7 separate regions of the Homo sapiens genome follow, and all the other regions are reported to be linked to region 6. Evidence: microRNA targets listed by miRTarBase, many of them from high-throughput screens and not tested one by one. Region 6 holds a microRNA gene; each other region holds the end of a gene's coding sequence.
What was found. Region 6 holds the annotated microRNA hsa-miR-183-5p (UAUGGCACUGGUAGAAUUCACU, at 1,369-1,390, opposite strand). A microRNA usually pairs through its seed, bases 2 to 8, with sites in the 3' UTR of a target mRNA and lowers its output. Matches are read on the target gene's strand: a 7mer-m8 pairs with bases 2 to 8, a 7mer-A1 pairs with bases 2 to 7 and ends in A, and an 8mer does both.

Region 1 (3,081 bases), not on the chromosome of region 6:
TCCAGCAGCTGGATGGGGCCCTGCTGTGTCTGTTGCAGCAGCCCCTGCCCAAGTCTCAAGTCCACAGGAGGCCCCCCTGTTGCTGTGAGTTACTCCCCTTCGCTCACTGCTTTGTGTGTCCCAAACCCTATTCTCACCATTAATCTGGCTTCAGTATATCCCCAGCAGCCACCTACCTTCCACTCCTGCCTTACCAGGTGCTTGTCAGGAGGTCCAGACCACGAAATTGCCCAGCAGCTGCCTCAATAGCCTGGAGAGCTTGGAGCCCCCGCTCCAGCCTGGAACATCTCCAGCCCAGACAGGTCAGCTGCAAAGCACACTAGGAGGAAGGGGACCTAGCCCGGAGGGCTACCTGGTGGGAAATCAGCAGGCCTGGCTTGCCCTCAGGCAACACCAGCGACCCCGTTGGCACCTGCCGTTTTTTTCCTGCCTGGGAACCAGTCCTGAATCCTAAGGAGCCTGGGACCAGGAGCCAGAAAGTTAAGAGCTCCCCATCTCTAGCTGGAAAATCCAGACATTTGGAATTGCATATTAAGGAAGCCCAGAACTGGAAGCTTGGAGGAAAGCATACTGGAGAATAAGCTACAAAGAGCCTGGGCTTAAGAATCCAAGATTAGGGGCTGGGCGAGGTGGCTCACGCCTGTAATCCAGCACTTTGGGAGACCGAGGCAGGCGGATCATGAGGTCAGGAGATCAAGACCATCCTGGCTAACACGGTGAAACCCTGTTTCCACTAAAAATACAAAAAATTAGCCGGGCGTGGTGGCGGGTGCCTGTAGTCCCAGCTACTCGGGAGGCTGAGGCAGGAGAATGGTGTGAACCTGGGAGGCGGAGCTTGCAGTGAGCTGAGATCCAGCCACAGCACTCCAGCCTGGGTGACAGAGCAAGACTCTGTCTCAAAAAAAAAAAAAAAAAAAATCCAAGATTAGGCAGGGCATGGTGGCTCACACCTATAATCCCAGCACTTTGGGAGGCTGAGGCAGGCGGATCACCTGAGGTCGGGAGTTCCAGACCAGCCTGACCAACATGGAGAAACCCCGTCTCTACTAAAAATACAAAATTAGCCAGGTGTGGTGGCGCATGCCTGTAATCCCAGCTACTCAGGAGGCTGAGGCAGGAGAATCGCTTGAACCTAGGAGGCGAAGGTTGCGGAGAGCCGAGATTGTGCCATTGCACTCCAGCCTGGGCAACAAGGGCAAAACTTCGTCTCAAAAAAAAAAAAAAAAAAAAAAAAAATCCAAGATCACTCCAGCACCTGGAATCCAGAGTAAAGAGCAAGACCATAGCCTGGAACCTGAAGGTCAGACCCTTGGGAGGTTCAGGCCTAGTTCTCCATCACTGAAGATATCTCAGGGATAAAGAGTTGAGTGCTCGGCCAGGTGAGGGGGCTCACGCCTGCTCACGCCTGTAATCCCAGCACTTTGGGAGGCCTAGAGGGGCGGATCACGAGGTCCGATCAAGACCATCCTGGCTAACGCGGTGAAACCCCGCCTCTACTAAAAATACAAAAAATTAGCCGGGCGTGGTGGCACGCGCCTGTAGTCCCAGCTACTCAGGAGGCTGAGGCATGAGAATCGCTTGAACCCGGGAGGCAGAGATTGCAGTGAGCCGAGATCGCGCCACTGCACTCCTGCCTGGGCAACAAGAGCAAAACTTCGTCTCAAAAAAAGAAAACTGGCTAGAATGCACTTCAACTTAAGTCCTGGGAGCTACGCTAATTCATGGAGAACCACAGAGGTTTAATAGGCATTTCTATACCTGGATCAGCCCCAAGGACAGTATTACCCTGTACTGCCCTTCCTATTACTATTTTCAGTCATTTACTAATATTGGGCTGTAGTACTTTCACGTTTAAGCTTTGGCTATTCAGAGCTCACTACGTTTAATCTTCAGTTACCTGAATGGTGTTTACCTTCTGGTGTGGATCATCCCGGCTTGTGTTAGTGCTCTCTCTTTGGAAGAAGCCAGGATTTAAGATCGAGTTAGCCTAGATGTGGCCCAGCAGGGTACAGAAGGGGAAAGGCTGCAGAAAACGGGCGTATTTTCGTGCAAAGAGGTTTTTGCGCCATTTATTTATGGTTTTCACCGTCGTATGAGAGGACTATTCATGATAGGCTGTATTTGCTGACAGCCTACTTTGGGCTCCCCCATGCGTTGTGCCGAAACCACCTCTTTCTTTCCTGCCTTCCTCCGCCTGGGCTAGGAAGCCCAGAGCTGCGGTTCGCAGGCCTGCTAAGCAGCCGGCGGCCGGAAGTCTATCCCGCAGAAGCGCAGCCATTCACGGCCTCACGCAATGCGACACTTCCGCCTGCACGAGTTCTTCCGGGGCGGAGGTCACCATGGCAGCTGCCTTGGCTCGGCTTGGTCTGCGGCCTGTCAAACAGGTTCGGGTTCAGTTCTGTCCCTTCGAGAAAAACGTGGAATCGACGAGGTACGAAGGGGAAGTGGGTAGAAGCGGGAAGTGGTGCGCCTTCCTTCAGCCGGGGCTTTAAGCCCTCAGCTTGGCGCTCCTCTGTTTTTCCACCGTAGGACCTTCCTGCAGACGGTGAGCAGTGAGAAGGTCCGCTCCACTAATCTCAACTGCTCAGTGATTGCGGACGTGAGGCATGACGGCTCCGAGCCCTGCGTGGACGTGCTGTTCGGTGGGCTTGGTGGAGACGGGCAGGAGGGAACAGCGAGCAGCCCGCGCGCCCCTAAGCCCCAGCACTGCGGTCCCTCCCTGTCTCACTCGTTTGTTTCTTCCCCAGGAGACGGGCATCGCCTGATTATGCGCGGCGCTCATCTCACCGCTCTGGAAATGCTCACCGCCTTCGCCTCCCACATCCGGGCCAGGGACGCGGCGGGCAGCGGGGACAAGCCGGGCGCTGATACTGGTCGCTGACAGCGCCAAAGAGACCAACAAGATGATTTTAGCGTGGACTAGGACACTTAACCTAAGAAGAGTTTCACTTAATCATTCAAATCACTATCTGAAGGGTCACGGAGCGCAAAATAAAGTTTAAAACCCTGCTACCACAATGTTTCTGGAACAAGACTAGATCAGAGAGGTGTCTGGATGAACCTGAATTTATTTCACTTTCT
Region 2 (3,081 bases), not on the chromosome of region 6:
CATTCCAGGAAGTGTAAAAATGCTTTAAAGGAATGATAATTTGTACTTACTGTTTATGGGGACTAGATATATTAGAATTATAGCATCATTATGGGGACATAGTGTTTCCCTATAAATTCAGAAATTCTCTGGTTGATGTAAAATCATACTTCCTGGTTTTACTTAATTAGTAAAGAAATAAATAAATTAGAGTAACATTTAGTCAGGTAGAGTTACTCCTTTTTCCCCTTCTTTATTAATAAATTTTATTTTTAGCACAATCATTTACCCAAAAAGAGAGTTTGAGAATGTTCGAGAATCTCTACCACTCGGTAACCATGCTGGCTGTTATATCAGAAAAATCCATAAACATACACAGCAGCGAGCTGTTTTCACAAGACTTCCTGCTAATAAACACAACACTTTCTCCTCCACTCAGATGGGAGCCTCAGATGCCAAAACGCAGATGTGCCAACTAACTATAGGCTCGTTGCTAAGCAGAGAAACCTATCAAGTTTGTCCAGCAAATTCGATTGTACAGTGGGATGGCGTCTGCTCTGCGGCCTTGGACAGGGAGCCACTGGTCTGTGCTGCTGTCCCCTGAGGCAGGTCGAAGCTGGTGGCCCTTAGAGGGCAGGTAAAATGGTTCTCATGGGTTAGAACATAAGGGCTTTGAGAAAAAATGCAAAAGGTCTCATTGAAATTGGAGGCCTATGTGAATCTGTTTACATGGAGGCATACTGAGATCTCGTTCTGTGCTTAGGTGAACTGCAGGTCTCACGCTGGCTGCATGACTTGGTGCCCCCTGGCTGGCTGAGCCACTGCCTGCCACCTTCTCATACCATTACGTGGGGGTCTAAAGAGGACATCATCCCCAACCAAAGAATAGTGAGAGAGAAAATCCCAAACATTTGAGACAGGGTTCAAAAGCACCCAGACGCCTTCTGTCTCTTTCCCAGTTCCCATCTGGCTAGGGACTGTGAATCAGAATTCAGAATCTGTGCTGCCCTGAGGGGACAGGCACCCAAATGCAATAAATAACACCAAGCTCAGGACCCAGCCACTGACCTTCCTCCACCACTGCTGCGGGTTATTCCTCGATGGGAACTGAAGGATCCAAGGGAGGAATCCGTTCCGCCCCCAAACCTCCCTGCACAACATCGAATGCGGGAGTCTGGCTGCTGCTTCTGCACAGGACAGAGCCTCCAGTCTTTTGCTTGAGAGCATCATTTATGGCATGGACTGGGAACGCAATGTGTTCACACAAATGCACGACAATTGTACATCAGCATCTTTACAATATTAAAGGAGCCATATACAAGTCTACAGCCATTGTACACAGGATGGTGATGGCTGGGGAGCCCCGCCCACCAGTCCTCTGCAGTTTCTCCACCGGAGAACACTTGGGGAGCTGTCACAAGGCCAGGGGGGGTCCATCTTTGGGCCTGTCGTGGGGGAGGCAGCAGGTCTGCAAGGACTCCTCAGGGCCAGTCCTCACTGGAATCAGGGGTCAAGAGCGCCAGGTCTGCCTGTGTCTGGGTCTCATCGGCAGGCTAGTGTAACAACGTGAATTAAAACTGTGCATATTCGCATGAGAAAACTGGAGCTGGGGATGGCTCCCTGAGCTGGGGACCTAGAAGACGCTGCTGACAGATGGGCCCCTTCATGGTGGGGCCCATTCCTGAGGTAACGTGCAGCCCTGAGGCTGGTCCGAACGGGAGGAGACTTCTCCAGCAGCCCAGGTGCCAGTCCACACAGACAGGACTGGAAGCCCCTGGGCAGCAGGTCAGGTGACCCGGGGAGTGCAGCCTGAGCCCCCAACGGCAGCAAACGTGAAGGTCTCAGGTGGTTACAGAATCACTCAGCCCTCAGGCCCCCACCACTCTCCTCCCAGCAGCCCTGCAGCACACATCCCTGCATCTGTCCCGAGAGCCCCAGCCCTGCAGGCATCTGGGCCTGAATGCCAGGCAGCTGGTCCACCCTGCAGCCATGCTGCACGTCTGACTGAGAACTGAGCACCAGATAAAGAAGCATTGGTCCTTGTCAGCCTCTCTGACTTTTGCAGTTAGGGCTGCATCCATTTTAAATACTGTAGAAAATAAGCCATCTCTCGGACGCTAGGAGACCCGCCAGAGTCTGCCCCGCGTGGAGAGGGATAAACAGCTCCTCTGAAGTAGCTGCAGACGGCTCTTCCAACCCCGCCCCAACAGGCCCCGGGGCCTCAGAGGATGCTGCGCCAGGCTGCGAAGCTGAGGGGCTGGGAGAGCTGGCAGCAGAGATCCCACCGCTGTATCTTTGGGTCGCATCAACAGTCCTTCTGCAGGCATGCCTCCAGCATCCCACGTTCTGTTGCCATGACACCTGGGACCCTGGTGCTCGCTGGGCCAGCTTTGGACCCTCCAGCCTCACCCTCGGTCTCATGCCCACGGCCAAGTATACACAGGCAGAACTCCCCAGCACTGTTTCCAGGTCCCTGGGGGGGCCCAGGTGGGCACTGAAGCAGGGCCTAGTCCAGGGGTTCCTGCTTGATTCGAACAGCAGTGGGGGTGGGCTGCGGCCGCCGCTCCTCCCGGCAAAGCACATACTCGCTGAACTGGGAGGAGTCCACACCGCCCCCACAGGACGCAGCCACGCTGAAACCCCTCTGGAACAGCCGCTCCAGGACCTGCCCAGGAAGAAACAGAGGTCATCAAGGCCAAGCTGCAAGAGGACACCTGGCTTGGCCTGGCAGGGAGGTGGGTGCCTGCTGGGGCAGCCAGCAAGGGCACCTTCTCCTGTGACGATCTCAGTCTTGCTCACTGACAAAGGTCCCTACAGAACCACGTGCTGGGTTCCACCACCAGAGGGACAGAAGTGGCCAGGCCCAGTGACCCCTCAGGTTAGCAAACCTAGTTGGACGACCCCACCCAGGCCACCATCCTGCTGCCCTCAGGGCCTTGATTCCGGGAGGCAAAAAGAGGCTTTGGGTCCCTTCTTTATTCTGTAGGGTGTAACCTATGCCCTCTCTCCAGACACATGGCCCCAAGTGTCCTCCCTGAGTCCTGCCCCAATAATGGAGAGTTCCCTGTCCTTCAGCCTCTAGGCATCCACCAGCTTCCCTGA
Region 3 (3,081 bases), not on the chromosome of region 6:
GTTTTGTTTTGTTTTAAGCAAAAAAATCCTCTTTGGAACTAAAGAGAGCTAAGAGAGGACAAAAAATTACTGAGAGTTAGGAAGGATCAAGCCATATTCCTGGAATACAGATGAGCTGTTCTCTTGCTTAGCCCTAAGAATCAAGCAAAGTATTTTCAAGTCTAGATCTCTCTTCAGAATCAAAGTACTTTCTACCCACTTACAACAGCACTGCCTGAACTGTGAGAAGTATCTAAAGCCTAATCAAGATTTTTACTGACAGAAGCAGATGAACCTAATAGCTCACTGAGTATTGGAATTAATTGCCAAAGCCATTTAGATAGCACTGCTGGTGTGATGGACTGGAGGCTCTGGATACCTGGACTGGAGGGCTCTGCTTGCCTTGGGATTGCTATGGCCAGATGGTACAAAATGGCATTCCTCATTCTCACTCCAGGCTGAGCAAATAGCCCAAAGCTCTATGGTACTTTTCAGCTCTCAAATGAGATTTGGTATGAGATTTAGTAATAGAGTAAGAAAGGTGATCTAAGGTTTGTCCCAGCTTTGCCTTGCTCTGTGACTGGAACATCCATGTTTTAGGCCTCAGTTTCCCCATCCATACAAGAGATAAAGAATTCTTTCATCTCTACATTTACGACCACCACAAGACAAATTACTTTCCTTCCCTACACTCAACAGCGAAGTCATTCATAGGGGAGCAGGCACAAAAGGGGAAATCTACTCAGGGCAATGCTTCAGACCAGAGCACCAGGCAGATTTCTAGTGAGTGTTCTGCCTTTCCCAGGCTCTTTGCTGCTGATAAAGGAATTTCATTTGGCTGAATTTACAATTTCTAAGAATATGAACAGTGGGCTCAACCACACTGCCTTACACTTAGTAAGTGCTTCATAAATATTAGACACTTTTTTTTTGGTAAAAAAGGCCTGATTTCCAATTGCCATAGAGATAACAATGAGTTCAATGAGAAGTTACTGCTCCAGGTATTTCAGATGGAAGGATTAAAAGCTTTTTGACGTACAATTATTAAAACTAGTTTTTCCTGCTTGTCTACTGAAACCTTTTTAGGCTTTAAAACATACTTAGCAACTTGAACGAAGAATATTTCAGAGAAACTAAAGGTTCTTCCCTACAAACTGCCAGCTTAACACAGTGCTTAATAGCTTGAGTCTACCAGCCTCACCTCAATTCCAGCTCTACCGCTTGCTAGCTGTACTCCATTGCTGAGCCTTAGTTTCCTCCCTGGTTAACAGCAAAGGAAACAGCATCTCCCTCCCAGGGCTGTGTGAGAAGATAACATATAAAAACGACTTGGCACTGCTTGGCTCACAGTAAGTACTCATCTCCACTCCCACCGGGAAGATGTGGCTTCCCACCTTGTTAGGTCCTAAAGTAGTTAATAAACTTCTTTGCCCAGAGAATAAATTTATTTTTGAGATTCAAATCAGTTAAAAGTGGGTGAGGCTCTGGAATTCAGCACTGTTTAAAAAGGTCAATCAAGTTAGATAGTTTTTTTACTCTACCTTCTCCTCTATGAAGTCTTATATGCATAGGAAACAAAACATTTATCAAGAATTGCTTTTCAAGGTGCAGCAGAAATGCTCCTCCTTCCATGATCCCTTCCCTTCCTTCTAAACTGAAATTCTACACAGCTCTTACGGCCTTTGATACTGTCTTGCCTGGATTGGTGTTTGTGTACACATGCAATTATTTATAAGCTCCCTGAAGGCAAGAACCACATCTCATCTCTGCATTCCCTTTAGCCTAATTCAGGGCCTCTCATAGAGTAGATTCTGCACAAACAAAATGTATTTGAATGGGGAGTTAACGCTTAAAGGGCACAAAGTTTGTTTGGAGTGACAAAAACGTTTTGGAAATAGTGGCAACGATTGCACAACATTGTGAATGTAGTTAATGCTGCTGAATTATACCCTAAAAATGCTATATTTGATGTTATATATAAATAAGTATCTGTTTAACATTGCTGGCAGCTCAGGTCACTCCAGAAAGAGGGCTTCAATTGGAAGTAATAGATCTCCAATAAAAGACCCTCTCTAGATGTCTTCAAGGACTATAACGTGTTAAATAAACACCCGCTACATAAATGAACAGACAGCATGATCTACAAAAAGTGTCAAATTTGAGAAAAAGCTATCACATTGATAACAGAGCATACTGTGTATAAACTAGGCATGGACTTGTATATCTTTTTAAGGATCAAAGAGGCTCTTGTAAATTTTTTCTTTATTTAAACTTCAATAAAAATATAGATTTGTAACTCAATAGAAAGACAGCAGTGATAATAACTCACACATGAGCAGCTCGCAAATTTCAAAGTCTTTGGTCTTCAAGTCCTATGTCACAGCTTCCTCAGTCTGATTCCCTCCTTCTCTGTAGAATTCTGAGAACTAGTTTGGTTCACTTAATCATCTCAATGGAGATGGCCCTTTCCTGCCATTCACTCAAATCTAGAACTCCCAATATGTGGCTCACAAATACTTCAGTCATCTACAAAAGCATCTGGAAATTAGATAATTTTAGCCAGAGTCAGGGACATAAAACTTCTTTAAAGGGATGCAGTCAATCCTGGTATTCACCACAAAGAAGATCCTCATGTATAAAAATGTGGAATCTGTGCTGCTTTTAATAATAGAACCTTTAAGGTTCAAAGAAAAAAAAAATGCTTTCCTGAACTACATCATTTCCAGACACATCAGCCACACAAGGAGCTGACAAGACCTGCTGTTTCTATTATAGAGAACGTGAGACTTTAAAACCACATCAAAAGAAAATGGTGGGAGCTTTTCTGCTATGCAGAGAATTCCGCATAGCACTCCTTTGCCCAGACTGGGAGACAAACATACCCCTCCCTCCTGAACTGGATCCCCACCACCTTTCCAAAGGCCACTGGACATGTCTCTTAAACGCTGCATTTCAGCTCTTGATCATTCTGCCCTGGGGATCCCTTCTCTTTAGGTTCTTTGTTATGGTCTGGGGAAACACTCTGACTTTCTATGGTGTTGACAGCATCTGAGTCCAATCTTCTTCTTTTCTTCAGTTGGTTCAAGTGGGATTTGGATTTTA
Region 4 (3,081 bases), not on the chromosome of region 6:
AATTTTAGACTTTTACTTTTAACTGATCACTGTTAAGCAAGGGAGGAAATTTACCACTTCTCTTTGTGATGTAATATTGCACAGTGACCCTAAGTGGAAGCCTTCCTGTGTCCTGGATGTGAGCTCCGCGCTGTCAGTGGTTGGCTTGTAAGCTCTGGCTCCAAGTGTTCTGAGGTGCAAGGAACCGATCTTGTGCAGTAGAAAGAGCTTTTGGAAGTTGGCAAGTAGCAAGGCTAGTTCTCATACATTCTATGCTCTGGCCACCTTTTTCTGTGGCAGGAAAACAAAACAGGCAAATGCACACAAACTGGGTACATTTAACTTTGCCTCCCTGAGCCATCTCCCAAGCCATTTAGCTTTGGATTGGCCTCAATTTGAACAAGGGAACAAACAAAATCATGATGATAACGATGATGACACCAGTCGTCCTTACTAAAGAAAGTGCTCAAAGTCCGGGTACCCGGTTAGGTTAGGAGCAGCCCCCAGCGCTAGATGCAGTCCTGCTGCCTCCTCCATGCACTGTCTTCCAGGTGCCTGTGCAGTCCTGGTTCGATGACATGACGGACACGGAGCTGCTGGACCTCATCCCCTTCTTTGAGGGCCTGAGCCGGGAGGACGACGTGTACAGCATGCTGCACAGACTCTGCAATAGGTAGCCCTGGCCTCTGCCTGCCTCCCGCCTGTGCACTCTGGAACCTCTGGCCTCAGGGGACCTGCCTGTCCTCAGCTCCCTGGGAGCTGAAAGTGAGGATACTCCGTGCTCCAGGCCACAGGGTGAATGTGGCCATGCCTACCTGTTTTGTTTTTTTAAGAACAGAAACAACTATTTTAAAAGAACTCTTTTAAGAAATTTCATAAAGGGACATGCATTTTACTGGGTTTGCTTTTCTTAAAACATACCAAAAAAGAAAAAAATAGAAAAAAAAAAAAAAAAAGCTTGATCTCTATCAGACTTCCTTTCAACTGTCCTCCCCTCCAAGCAGACCACCTGTCCCCTTCTATCCCAGCTCAGAGCAGCTGACCCAACTCAGAATCTCTTTCCTACAGGATGAAGTGCCTTTTGAATGTTATTTTAAGCCGAGAGTTAATTTTTCTACACAACATATTTCCAGACATCTTTTAGTCTTTTATTGTCTTAGATACTATAAGAAGATGAACATGACAATTTTCTAGAACCTGGTAGCGTGTGTGTGTGTGGCGGGGGGTGCTGAGGGAGGGGAGTGAGTCACAGGAGCCTGTCCCCCAACAGGTGTGACTGCTCTGACAACCTGTGGCATGCTGCAGGGTCAGGCTCCTGATAGGAGGATTTCATGACTATGTCATTGTCTCCACTCATTTTTGACCCAGTTTGGAATGTATCTGCAATTGTGTGGCTCAACACTTTAGGAAACAATAGATTATTTTATATTATTATTTCTGATGGTGACAAGTTTGTCTTGAGGTCACATTTTCTCCTTGAAAAGTGACATCCTGTCACTTCTGCTCTCACACTACTGCCATACATTTGTGTTTTTTGTTGTTATTGTTTGGGTAGAGCAGTTACAAGAAACCCTAAAACCCTTGGATATAAAAGAAATCTGTTTATTGATTTTTAAATCTTTCCTTTCCAAAAGCTGGATACACATGGAGCTGTTTGGGAATTTTCCTTGCTGCTACCGCGCTGCCACCAAATGGAATTGACCAGCGGCTGTTACACTGTTCTTTGCCACTGTGCCTATGCTCAGAATATGCTCACTGCTAAGCTACAAACTCGGACAGGGTCAGAAACAGAGGTGTCCCATCCCATTGCAGCCTCCACCACCTGTAACCCCTTCCTGGCATTGGCCACTGAAGGGTACAAAGGCAAAAGGACCACAGCACCACTTAGGTGTAGCATGGATTTTAAACTGCAGTCAGTATCAGATCCTGTTTGATAAATAAGCTGACTGTTCTCTCTTGAGAACCTGTGGCCTCAACCAGCCACCAAGCTGATGTGGCCCAAGTCCATCTCTTGGTCTTCTCCTTTGAAGCACAGCCTATTTCTGAGCCAAGGGTTGGGGAAGCCTGTCTAGATGTGGGACTCATTGCCCCAAACCAGGGAGAGGAAGAGCTCCCACAGGGAGAGCCCAGGCTCTCTTTGCAGCCTTTCCCAGTTTGGTGTTTAAGCAGTGCCATGTTCCTTGTTTGACAACAAGACAGTCTGTAAAGTATTGCTCTTAAAAACAATTAAAAAGAACCCTTTCATATTGGCACCATTGCCTTAGTCCTCTGTGGGTTGGTCTTCAGCCAGCATTCTGGTGGGAGTGACTGGCATTAACAAGACTGGAAATCGGGGGTCAAAGTAAAATATCTTTGTTTTGCTTTCATTCACAAAGTAATGAAGCCAGCTGCCAATTACATCCTCCCAACAGCACTTTGGTCTGTGGACTGCTGTGTGAATATTCAGAAGGGAAGTAAGTATTCAGGGGGTAAACAGGTCTCCCAGCATTCTGAGTGTTCCAAACCAGTAATCCACATGCCAATTCAAATAGAACAGCCCCTTGCTAGATATTACCACAGATAATGACAGTTACATGGTAGAACTGCCCATGCCACAAATATTTATTTGGAAAAGTAGTCATTAAATGAACCCACTGCCTTAAATGTCTTGAATGTTGCAGTCAAGTGTCTGTCATGTGTTGATATCCACACAGAATTAGGCCCTAATGAGAGCCTTAGACCCTCAACCATGCCCCCTTCGTTGGCATCACAGGGCCTTATTTGGAAGAGCGGGCAAAGAGGATGGAAATCATAAAATATTTCATGGGAATCGAACCTAGGGATAGTGCTCCACTTCTGACGATGGAGTGAAGACACTTGGCAGACTTGAGCCAGACACTTCACCTAGTAGTTCCTGAAACTGTGAGCACCACTGCACTAAGCCAGTGCGGAGCTGTTAGGGACGGGCCCAGCTCCTGCACCACGGACACAGAATGTCTGGAGAGGGCCAGCAGGCCCTCTGAGGGTTCTGGAATCTGTGCACCTTATTTGACCACACTCCAAAATTCTGTTTTTATTTTAACCCTTGAATCTGCTTTATGTACATAATCAAAATATCTATAT
Region 5 (3,081 bases), not on the chromosome of region 6:
TCAGACTGTTCATACTGGAGACAGACCTTACAAATGTAATGAGTGTGGCAAAACCTTTAAACGGAGCTCAAACCTCACTGCACATCAGATAATTCATGCAGGAAAGAAACCATATAAATGTGATGAATGTGGCAAGGTATTCAGGCATAGTTCACATCTTGTAAGTCACCAGAGAATCCACACTGGAGAGAAAAGATACAAATGTATTGAATGTGGCAAAGCCTTTGGGCGGTTGTTTTCCCTCAGCAAACACCAAAGAATTCATTCTGGCAAAAAACCTTATAAATGTAATGAGTGTGGGAAATCTTTTATTTGTCGCTCAGGCCTCACTAAACATCGAATAAGACATACTGGAGAGAGCCTTACAACTAAACTCAATGTGACAAGGCCTTAGACGTTGTCCTAGTTTCTGGAATCACCGAATAATTCCTACTTACTGATATACCTTGTATATTTACCCCTTCTCTTGAAATCCCTGTGGAATTGTAATCTCCAGTATTGGAGGTGGGGCCCATTGGGAGGTGATTGAATCATGGAAGTGGATTTCTCAAACTGAGAAAGATGTAGCGTCATCCCCTTGGTGCTGTCCTGGCAATAGTGACTTCTCTTGAGGTCTGGCTGTTTAGAAGTGCATAGCACTTCCCTGTCGCTTGCCCTCATTCTCACCATGTGAAATACCGACACCCGCTTTGCCTTCCACCATGATTTTAACCTTCCTGAGGCTTCCCTAGAGGGTGATCAGATGCCAGCACCATGTTTTCATTTAAGCCTTCAGAAATATGAGCCAATTAAACTCTTTTCTTTATACATTAGCCAGCCTCAGGTTTTTTTTTGTAGCAATGCAGTTATGACCTAATACATTTACACATGCAGTAAATATACCTAAGTTTTAAGCTAGTATTCACTACTCACTAGGTGTAAGAATTTGTATATATATTCCAGGATGTATACATCCTGGAGAAAAATCACAGAAGTGTAATACGTGTGGCAAGAATTCTACTCAAAAGCCAGAACTTGTAAATCTAGGTAATTAAAAGGGCATAGATGTATGAAATGAAATGAGGGTGGCAAAACCTTTACTAGAGTTCAATCACTACTTGTCATAAGAGAGTTTATACTGAAAGGAAATCATATAAATGTATGTGTCAGAGGCTTTCCCCAGGCATTGGAACTCACTAGGCATCAGAATATACATCTTTGAGAGGAACCACAGAAATGTAATGTGCATGCTAAGGTTTTTACCCGAACATCAAAATGGAAAGAGTATTCATACTAGAGACAACCTTCCAAATAAATGGTTTTAAAAAATGAAATGTTCAAAGACCTGGAATCAACCCAAATGCTTATCAGTGATAGACTGAATAAAGAAAATGTGGTACATATACACCATGGGATACTATGCAGCCATAGAAAGGAATGAGATCATGTCCATTGCAGCGATGTGGATGGAGCTGGAAGCCATTATCCTCAGGAAACTAACACAGGAACAGAAAATCAAACAGCACATGTTCTCACTTAAAAGTGGAAGCTGAACAATGAGAACACATATACCCAGGGAGGGGAGCAACACACACTGGGGCCTGCTGATGGGGGTGGGAAGGGCAGGGAAGTGGAGCATCAGGACAAATAGCTAATGCATTTTTGCCTTAATACCAGGTGATGGGTTGGTAGATGCAGCAAACCACCATGGCACACATTTTCCTATGTAACAAATTTGCAAATTGTGCACATGTACCCAGAACTTAAAGTGAGACAAAACCAATGTCCACGCCTTTGCAGTTTGATTGAACGTATAAAGGAGAAAAATCCTGTAAGTATGCTGAACATGAAAGGACCTGGAAGCAGTAGTGTGTCTTCAGCCTTTACCAAATTATCCCTACTTGAGAGAAAACTTGGAAATGTAATCAATGTGGCACAAATTTCAACCAGTTTTTTAAACAGACTACACATCTTTGAAATCATACTAGGGATAACCAAATCTGCTTCTCCAAGATTGGCCTGGAATATTATTACAGAATAACTACCAGACAACATTTGTTAAAACTCAGGACAGTATGTATTTTAAAGGAGCAAGTGCATGTGTGAAAATGGCTCATTCAGTTTATAAAATATTACATTAAATTTGAGGTTTCTGTTTTTTTTCTTTTGTGACAGTCTTGCTCTGTTCCCCATGCTGTAGTGCAGTGGCACCAGTTCACCTCACTGTAACTTCCACATCCTGGTTTCAAGCAATTTGTGCCTCAGCCTCCCAAGTAGCTGGGATTACAGTCATGCCACCATGTCCAGATAATTTTTATATTTTTTTGTAGAGATGGTGTTTTACCATGTTTGCCAGGCTGATCTCAAGCTCCTGGCCTCAAGTGATTTGCCACCTTGGCCTCACACGTTGCTGAGATTACAGGCATGAGCCACCACACCTGGCCAATGGGGCGTTTCTTAAAATAGCTACTAGACTATGACGTTTATCCTAAGGTTTGAAGTCTATCATCTTCCTTACATATCCTTCATTGTGGTATCTGGGAATGAATCAACAAGATGAGAGAGCCTCCTTCATTCAGTGTGGCTCCTTCATTTCCATGCTTCCTGAAGATTAAGGTCACTGAATTTTAAAATTCAATATTCTGTGAGTTACACACCATGGAGTAACTGGGAGAATAATGTAAGTTTATGATGTAAGTTGTGCTTGTGTTCCAGGTGTCCATGAACACGTAGAGTGCCACTTTGGGTTGTAGAAAATAATTGCACAACCAACTGACTGAAATACCAGTGAGGACATTGATGGAATATTAAGGGTATTCATGAGAGGCAAGTGATAGGTTACTAGGGATGGATTGTGTGGGAGAAATAATGCAGAGGAAATGATGATCATCTCCATTGAATGACAGCTGTTATATAGCAAAGATAAATGTAAAATTAGTCTTATTCTTGGAAGTGGAAGACAGCAGTTATCAGAGAGGAGAATTTAATCAAAAGAATCAGAATAGCATGGTCACAGGCCAGATTCACATTGAAGTATTTACTCTATATTTTACTGCTGTTACATTCAAAATGTATCAGAAGTCTCATGGTTCAATTAATAAA
Region 6 (3,081 bases):
AGCCCCATCAGGGGCTGGCCCAGTGACCTGGGGCATGATAGCTCCCAGCTGGTCCCAAGTCGGCCACTGGTCTCCTGCTTGATTGCTGACCACCAGATTTCACATGGGTCCAGCCTGGCTGGCCAGGCTCTCCCCAGCTTTGACAGACTAGGTCCAGGCCTCCCAGCCTCAGTCTCTGCCATCTGGGGCATCCTTGGGAGCCCAGGCCTGTAGATTCAGAGCTGAGACACCTCCAGGCCCTGGGTGCCTCCATGGAAGGTGTGGCTGGTGGCGGAAGAGCCACAGTGACCCAGCTCTACCACTCACCAACCTCTTCAGCCAAGCCTTTCCTCTCAAAGCCTCAGGTTCCCCATCTATGAGATAACTATTTTAAAAAATTACAAGCCCCACAGGGCTGAGGTGGGAACTGTTGGGATTATATATGTAATGTCACCTGACACCCAGATGGAGAGCATAGGCCAGTTAGTCATAGCCCAGATCCAGGGACCCAGGAAGCTACATTACCAGTGTGTGGTGTGTGAAGGGGAACATTGGCCTCTGCTCCAGAACCTTCTAGGGGCAGGCCTGAAAATGCCCTCCAACTCCGAGCCCCACTAAGTATCCTCCTCTTGGAGCTGTTCGGAGATGACCCACTCCACAGCAGGCTACAGCTCCAGAGACGGTAGCCCCCCTGGAAACACCCAGGCTGACCTCAAGGGCAGCCCACCTGCCTGGAGCTGCCCCCTTCACAACCTGCAGCAGAAAAGACCAGGCCCTGTGCTGCCAGCCAAGGTCTCACCCCAAGCGTGTGCTGGGAGCCTGGCTGGGCCTTTCCAACCCACGGCACCATTCAGGATGGCCCTACAGATGGTTTCAGACTCCCCCACCTCTGCCCTGGGCGGCCCCATCTGCTGGCCCAGCTCAGATTGCTGGGCTCCCAGCTCTACCGTGGCCCCAGGCAGTGTAAGGCGATCTGGCTGCCCACCAGCGCTGGGCCCTCACACAGCAGCTGAGCCAGATGGGCTGGGGAGGCGGTGAGGAGGCCTTGAGGAGGAGCAGGCTGGGGCCCTGACACAAGGATGCAGGGGAGGCGGACGCAGCTGCGGGTCCTGCTTTTCCCATATTGGCACTGCACATGATTGCTCAGAGCGGAGAGACACAAGCAAAAATGTGCTAGTGCCAAAATCGGCCAAGCAGATGGCACTGGTGCGGGCTCTCTGGGGACACACTGGACGAGGGGCCTTGCATCCCTGCACCCTTGGAAGCAGCCTGTTTCCGACGTCTAGGAGCACTCAAGGCAGAAGTGGGTAAGGTGCTCCGGAGGCCCTCGTGGATCTGTCTCTGCTCTGTTTATGGCCCTTCGGTAATTCACTGACTGAGACTGTTCACAGTGAATTCTACCAGTGCCATACACAGAACAGGAGTCACACTCTGCGGCCTGCCGACCCTGCGGAGAGACCAGCGGCCCACGATGCCCGTTCCCTGCTCCTAGCCTGCCCACTCCCTTGGGGGCCCCCCAGCAGGCCCTCAGCAGCGGCTGCTACGGTCTCTACCCCCCACCCCATCCCACCTCTTCACAAGATCCACATGCCCCATCAGCCCAAGATGACCTTCAAGGAGACAGGGACAGTGCGGGAGAGGAGCTGACCTTCTGGCCTTGCAGAGGAGAAGACCACACCAAGGTGTCTCCTATCTCCACCTGAAGGCCCACATCCCTCCACATCACCCAGACTGCGCCTCCAGGCTGGGGAGGGAGTGGGTCAGGACCATCCATCTCCTTGCCAGAGTAACTCTGGCTCGGAGAGGCAAGCAGCTGGCCAGAGCCTCCTCTCTACCCAACCTGCCACAGGGGCAGTGACCAGTGGGACATCCAAGATGCCTCTCGTAGCCTCTGAGCCCAGACACCAGCAGCCCAGGCTCCTAGGCACTTTGGTCTCCATTATCCTCCACCCCCCAGCCTGCCCTGTGGCAGAAACAGAGCCCCAGGAACAAACCGAATCTGCTGCTCACCCCCACTCCCATCCCAAACCAGACCAGATTGGGCCAGACTGTGAACCGCCCAGGCTGGGCATCTCTGCTGCCGGCCTAGGATCAAGGCAGGAAAAGGCCAGGAAAGGAGGGCAGAAGAGAAGTCCTGCAGCCACCCAGGTGGCTTGGAGGGAGCCGGAGGCACGGATGCACTCTAGCAAGGGAGTGGCTCCTGGCTGGCTCTGGAGTGACTGCGGAGGAAAGCGGAGGCTCAGGAGCGAGGGAGGGGCTGGGAAGGTTGCATCAGTGGTTGCCAGAGCAGCTGCCTAGAGAGAAGTTGCTGTGGAGGCCCTGCCTCTGGTGTCACAGGCCCTGGGGAAGGACGGGAAGAAGGGAGAGGGTGGGAGGGAGGGTCTCTGGGGAGCTGGCACCCAGGGCAGGCAAGCTGGGGCCTCCGCAGAGTGGCCACTAGAGTCTCAGCCTACTCCAGGTCAGCGGTGGCCCAGAAGGCAGGGTGGCTAGAAAATATCCTGGAAGGGTCAGAGCAGGTGCCCTGGCCCAGAAACTATGCAGACCTCTTGGCGATGTTACCCCCAGGAACTACCTCCCGTGGACCTCAGAGCTCCATCTGGGTACCTTGGCCAAAGCCATCCGCTCTCCCCTAGACACTGCTTAATGCTCCACCCTTCCTGCTCCCGAGGACTCTTTGTCCTGCTCCCACACACCCCCACTACAGGGCTCTGCCCTTCTAGCTGGTCTATCTCCCCAGAGGACAATCCAGCTTGATGAGGTGGTGATCTCAGGAAGTCACTCCTCAGCCTTCTGCCTCAGTTTCCCTTACTACAATTTTCTGAACTCTACTAAGGAAGAGAGACCAGACTTCCCAGCCTTGGGTGGGGAGGGGAAGGGGTGATGGCAGGGTGTTAGCAAAGAGTATGGGGTGGGTAGTTATGAACATTGCTTAGGGTGTAGCCATAAGCATCACCCAAGGAGCCTGTTGAAATGTAGATTCTTGAGCCTGCCTGGAAATCTGCATTTTAATAGCACCCTGACAGCTCAGCATGGGGTGGGGGTGGGGGTGGGAAGATCTATTTTGAGAAATCTTTCCCAAGAAGCCTCACCCTGGGATAATTA
Region 7 (3,081 bases), not on the chromosome of region 6:
CTATTGTATATCTTAAACATCCAAATAGAGACATTGATTAGACTGTTGGAAATGAGACTGGGATTCACAGGGAAAGGTCTAGGTTGAAGGTATAAATTTAGGAGACATTGTGTAAATATTTAAAACTGGAAATTCTTTTTTTTTTTTTGAGATGTTATTTCTCTCTTGTTGCCCAGGCTGGAGTGCAATGGCACGATCTTGGCTCAGCACAACCTCTGCCTCCTAGGTTGAAGTGATTCTCCTGCCTCAGCCTCCCAAGTAGCTGGGATTACAGGCACATTGTACTCCATAAATAGACACATACAGCCTTCCGAGTAGCTGGGATTACATCACATTGTACTCCATAAATATAATAATTTTATAAAATTATAATAATTTTATAAAAATATAATAATTTTTGTATTTTTAGTAGAGGCAGGTTTAGTGGAGACAGGGTTTTGCCATGTTGGCCAGGCTGGTCTCGAACTCCTGGCCTCAGGTGATCTGCCTGCCTTGGCCTCCCAAAGTGCTGGGATTACAGGCGTGAGCCACCGCGCCCGGCCTCAAACTGGAAATTCTTGAGATCACCTAGTGGGTGAGTGTAGGGGAAAAGGTGGAAAAAAGGTCCAAGGAGTAAGCCCTGGGACACCCCAACACTTACGGATTAGAAAAAGGTAGATTCAGCAGGAACAAAGTCGAGAAATTGGAGGAAAACCAAGAAAGCATTTGTCGAAGCCAGTGAAGGAAATAGTCTAGGAATACTGATGAGAAGCTTAGTAAGAAGAATGAAAACTGGCTATTGGATTCACCACACAAAGGCTATTGATGATTTTGACAAGAGCAGTTTCCATGGAGTGGTGGGGGTGAATACTTAATTGTAGCTGGTTCATGAGAGAACTGGAAGGGAAGAATTAGAGGTAGCAACTCTTTTGAGGAGTTCTGCTATGAAGGGGAGAAGGAAAAGAGAACAGCAGTTCAAAGATGCAGAGAAAAAAGTTTAAGAGATTTTACAGCATATTTGTATTGCTAATAGAATAATTGGTCAGGAAAAAAATTGACAATCCAGAAAAAAGACACTAGGAGTCAATGTAAAGCTAGAGGGTTGGGCTTTGATAGGAATAGTGTTGGTTCATTCTTAGTAAGAGGGAGGAAGGAAGGCTATAAAAGCACCAATGCAACTGGGTTAGCAGATTTGGTGGTTGGGTGTTGGGGGATGTGGAAGTTTTCTTCTGATCTCTTTTAGATTCTTAGTAAAATAGGAAATACAGTAACCAGCAGACTGAGGATGGGAAGGGGATGCTGAAGATTGAGGATAAAGATATGTGAATAGATTAAAGAAATAAACAGGTAGTATTGATAAAACTTAACTGATTAGACATAGGAAAATGTGAGACAAAGAAAACAAAGACAGATTTCTGATTTGGCAACTGGGTGGAGAGTGGAGGTGTCTTTCATTCAGATAGGGAAGTGTGTGGGAGAAGCAGGTCTGGGAGGAGGGGGGTTTGATTCTAACATGGAAAGTTTTGTGCCAGTGAAATCCAAGTGGATAAAAGTGTCTGAAGCTCAGAAGAGAAACCTGAGCTTGAGATATCTCAGCTCCCTGATCTGGAAGTTGTCAATATTAAGATAGTAGGAAGTGGAGAGGCTTTTGTGGTTGCTGTTTTCTCTGAGAGGTAAAGGGACTGGTGGTTTGAAATCAGAGAAGGGTTGAAATAGATTCTGGAGAAGAACAGCAACATTGACAAGGAGATAGGGGGATCATCAGGTACTCTTAGGGGGCACAGTTAAAGGTGGAGCTCTTATGTTGAGTAGTTCCAGCCTTACCATTGCAGAGCCCTGGGGCCCACATTTGTTTCTGGAACTAAAACCACCAGGGGCCCAGTGTCCTTCCTGCTTCTTCCTGCTGAGCCTCCACATCAGGGTTCCATCTCACCACCCAGCAACGTTCCCTGACCTTGAAGCCTATCCTTTATCTAAACGCAACACGCTTTCATCCTTGCTTTCCTGGTTAACTCCTACCCACCTTTCTCTACTCAGATCAGGCCAGGACTTTTTCAGAAGCCTTCCTTGACTGTTCCCCACATCCCCTGCCATGTGAGCAGGAAGTTTCTTCTCTATACCCAAATAGCCCCTCAAATACCTATTACAGCATAAAACATACAGCACTGTATCACTGATTTACTCGGCTGCCTCTCCCACTGGACTGCAACAACTTGAGGGCAGAGTGTTTTCACCTTTATAATGATCACTACTTAGTAGGTAGCTCAATACATGTGAAATTAATATAGGAGAAAAGAACTAAAGTCCAAAACCGACACAATTCTACAGGGTCATGATGTCCCCAGCCCGTGTCACACAAAGATGCTTCTAACCTTAGAAACCAACTCACAAAATAGAGAAATATCCTTTTGGTCTCAATATTATACCCCTTTTCCGTTCAGGAAGAAATCTTAGTAAACCCACAGAAAGGAAATATCCTTACATTATATTAAAGTACATTACCCCTTGCTCTCTCCTCTTCCCAAACACACAAAGCAGGAGGCATTGTATAAAGGCACTTTATTTTAAAATCAACACATCCTGCTTTTATAAATCAGTTACTCTTCATTTCCAACTTCCATCACCTGAGTTTGAGAGCAGAGTGCGTGGTATTTTTCTGGGCTTAAGGTATAAACTGACATGGCATTCAAGAACATGTCCAGCGGGCAGAGCCCATCAGGGCAACCTCTCGGCACCTGCTCCTGCAGAAGAAACATAACTCAGCAGGTCCGCCGAGGAACCTGTCCTTCTGCTATTTCCAGCTAAGCCCAGAGATCTGAGAGGCTCTGATCCATGTGGTATACATGTGCATACATATTACAGACAGGAAGGCCCCACTACCCGGTGAGCTTCCAGAATAAAAGCACTATGCTCTGCTTGTAAAAGTCACTCAAAAAGTGTTGAATTGACTGGGAAGAAAGAGTCGAGTTACATCCCCGAGCTGGGAGAACCAACAGGCTCATCCCTGGGGCGTGCTCTGGCCTCTGCCCTGGACCCCAGCCCTGATGAAGCAGCCAACACCACGGGTGCTAACAGCAGCACACATCACCTCCCAAAGATACC

Region 1: miRTarBase lists CCDC142 as a target of hsa-miR-183-5p. Seed matches in the 3' UTR shown: 7mer-m8 at 1,165-1,171.
Region 2: miRTarBase lists KCTD15 as a target of hsa-miR-183-5p. Seed matches in the 3' UTR shown: 7mer-A1 at 1,211-1,217.
Region 3: miRTarBase lists TRIT1 as a target of hsa-miR-183-5p. The part of its 3' UTR that is shown has no 7-base or 8-base seed match.
Region 4: miRTarBase lists CTDSPL as a target of hsa-miR-183-5p. Seed matches in the 3' UTR shown: 7mer-A1 at 1,495-1,501 and 7mer-m8 at 2,148-2,154.
Region 5: the mRNA of ZNF616 is a reported target of hsa-miR-183-5p. The part of its 3' UTR that is shown has no 7-base or 8-base seed match.
Region 7: miRTarBase lists ACP6 as a target of hsa-miR-183-5p. Seed matches in the 3' UTR shown: 7mer-m8 at 188-194.

Annotation. Positions count from the first base shown.
Region 1 is chr2:74,471,919-74,474,999 of GRCh38, reverse strand. It overlaps CCDC142 (coiled-coil domain containing 142), which reads left to right. Exons shown (of 9, transcript NM_001365575.2): 8 at 1-84; 9 at 198-2,168. The coding sequence ends at 454. It overlaps MRPL53 (mitochondrial ribosomal protein L53), which reads left to right and starts at 2,320. Exons shown (of 3, transcript NM_053050.5): 1 at 2,320-2,431; 2 at 2,530-2,642; 3 at 2,748-3,018. The coding sequence starts at 2,340. The coding sequence ends at 2,881. RefSeq lists enhancers at 2,282-2,381, 2,782-2,911.
Region 2 is chr19:33,812,353-33,815,433 of GRCh38, reverse strand. It overlaps KCTD15 (potassium channel tetramerization domain containing 15), which reads right to left. Exons shown (of 7, transcript NM_001129994.2): 7 at 1-2,644. The coding sequence ends at 2,486. Among named protein-coding and RNA genes, the nearest start is that of KCTD15, 17 kb to the right of the region's middle.
Region 3 is chr1:39,838,827-39,841,907 of GRCh38, forward strand. TRIT1 (tRNA isopentenyltransferase 1) reads right to left here. Exons shown (of 11, transcript NM_017646.6): 11 at 1-3,081. The coding sequence ends at 2,918. Among named protein-coding and RNA genes, the nearest start is that of LINC02811, 23 kb to the left of the region's middle.
Region 4 is chr3:37,980,212-37,983,292 of GRCh38, forward strand. It overlaps CTDSPL (CTD small phosphatase like), which reads left to right. Exons shown (of 8, transcript NM_001008392.2): 8 at 531-3,081. The coding sequence ends at 656. Among named protein-coding and RNA genes, the nearest start is that of VILL, 9.0 kb to the right of the region's middle.
Region 5 is chr19:52,112,131-52,115,211 of GRCh38, reverse strand. It overlaps ZNF616 (zinc finger protein 616), which reads left to right. Exons shown (of 4, transcript NM_178523.5): 4 at 1-2,121. The coding sequence ends at 394. Among named protein-coding and RNA genes, the nearest start is that of ZNF841, 18 kb to the right of the region's middle.
Region 6 is chr7:129,773,599-129,776,679 of GRCh38, forward strand. It overlaps MIR183 (microRNA 183), which reads right to left and starts at 1,416; the gene lies at 1,307-1,416. MIR96 (microRNA 96) reads right to left here and starts at 1,171; the gene lies at 1,094-1,171. RefSeq lists an enhancer at 1-496.
Region 7 is chr1:147,644,847-147,647,927 of GRCh38, forward strand. It overlaps ACP6 (acid phosphatase 6, lysophosphatidic), which reads right to left. Exons shown (of 10, transcript NM_016361.5): 10 at 1-2,720. The coding sequence ends at 2,577. Among named protein-coding and RNA genes, the nearest start is that of ACP6, 24 kb to the right of the region's middle.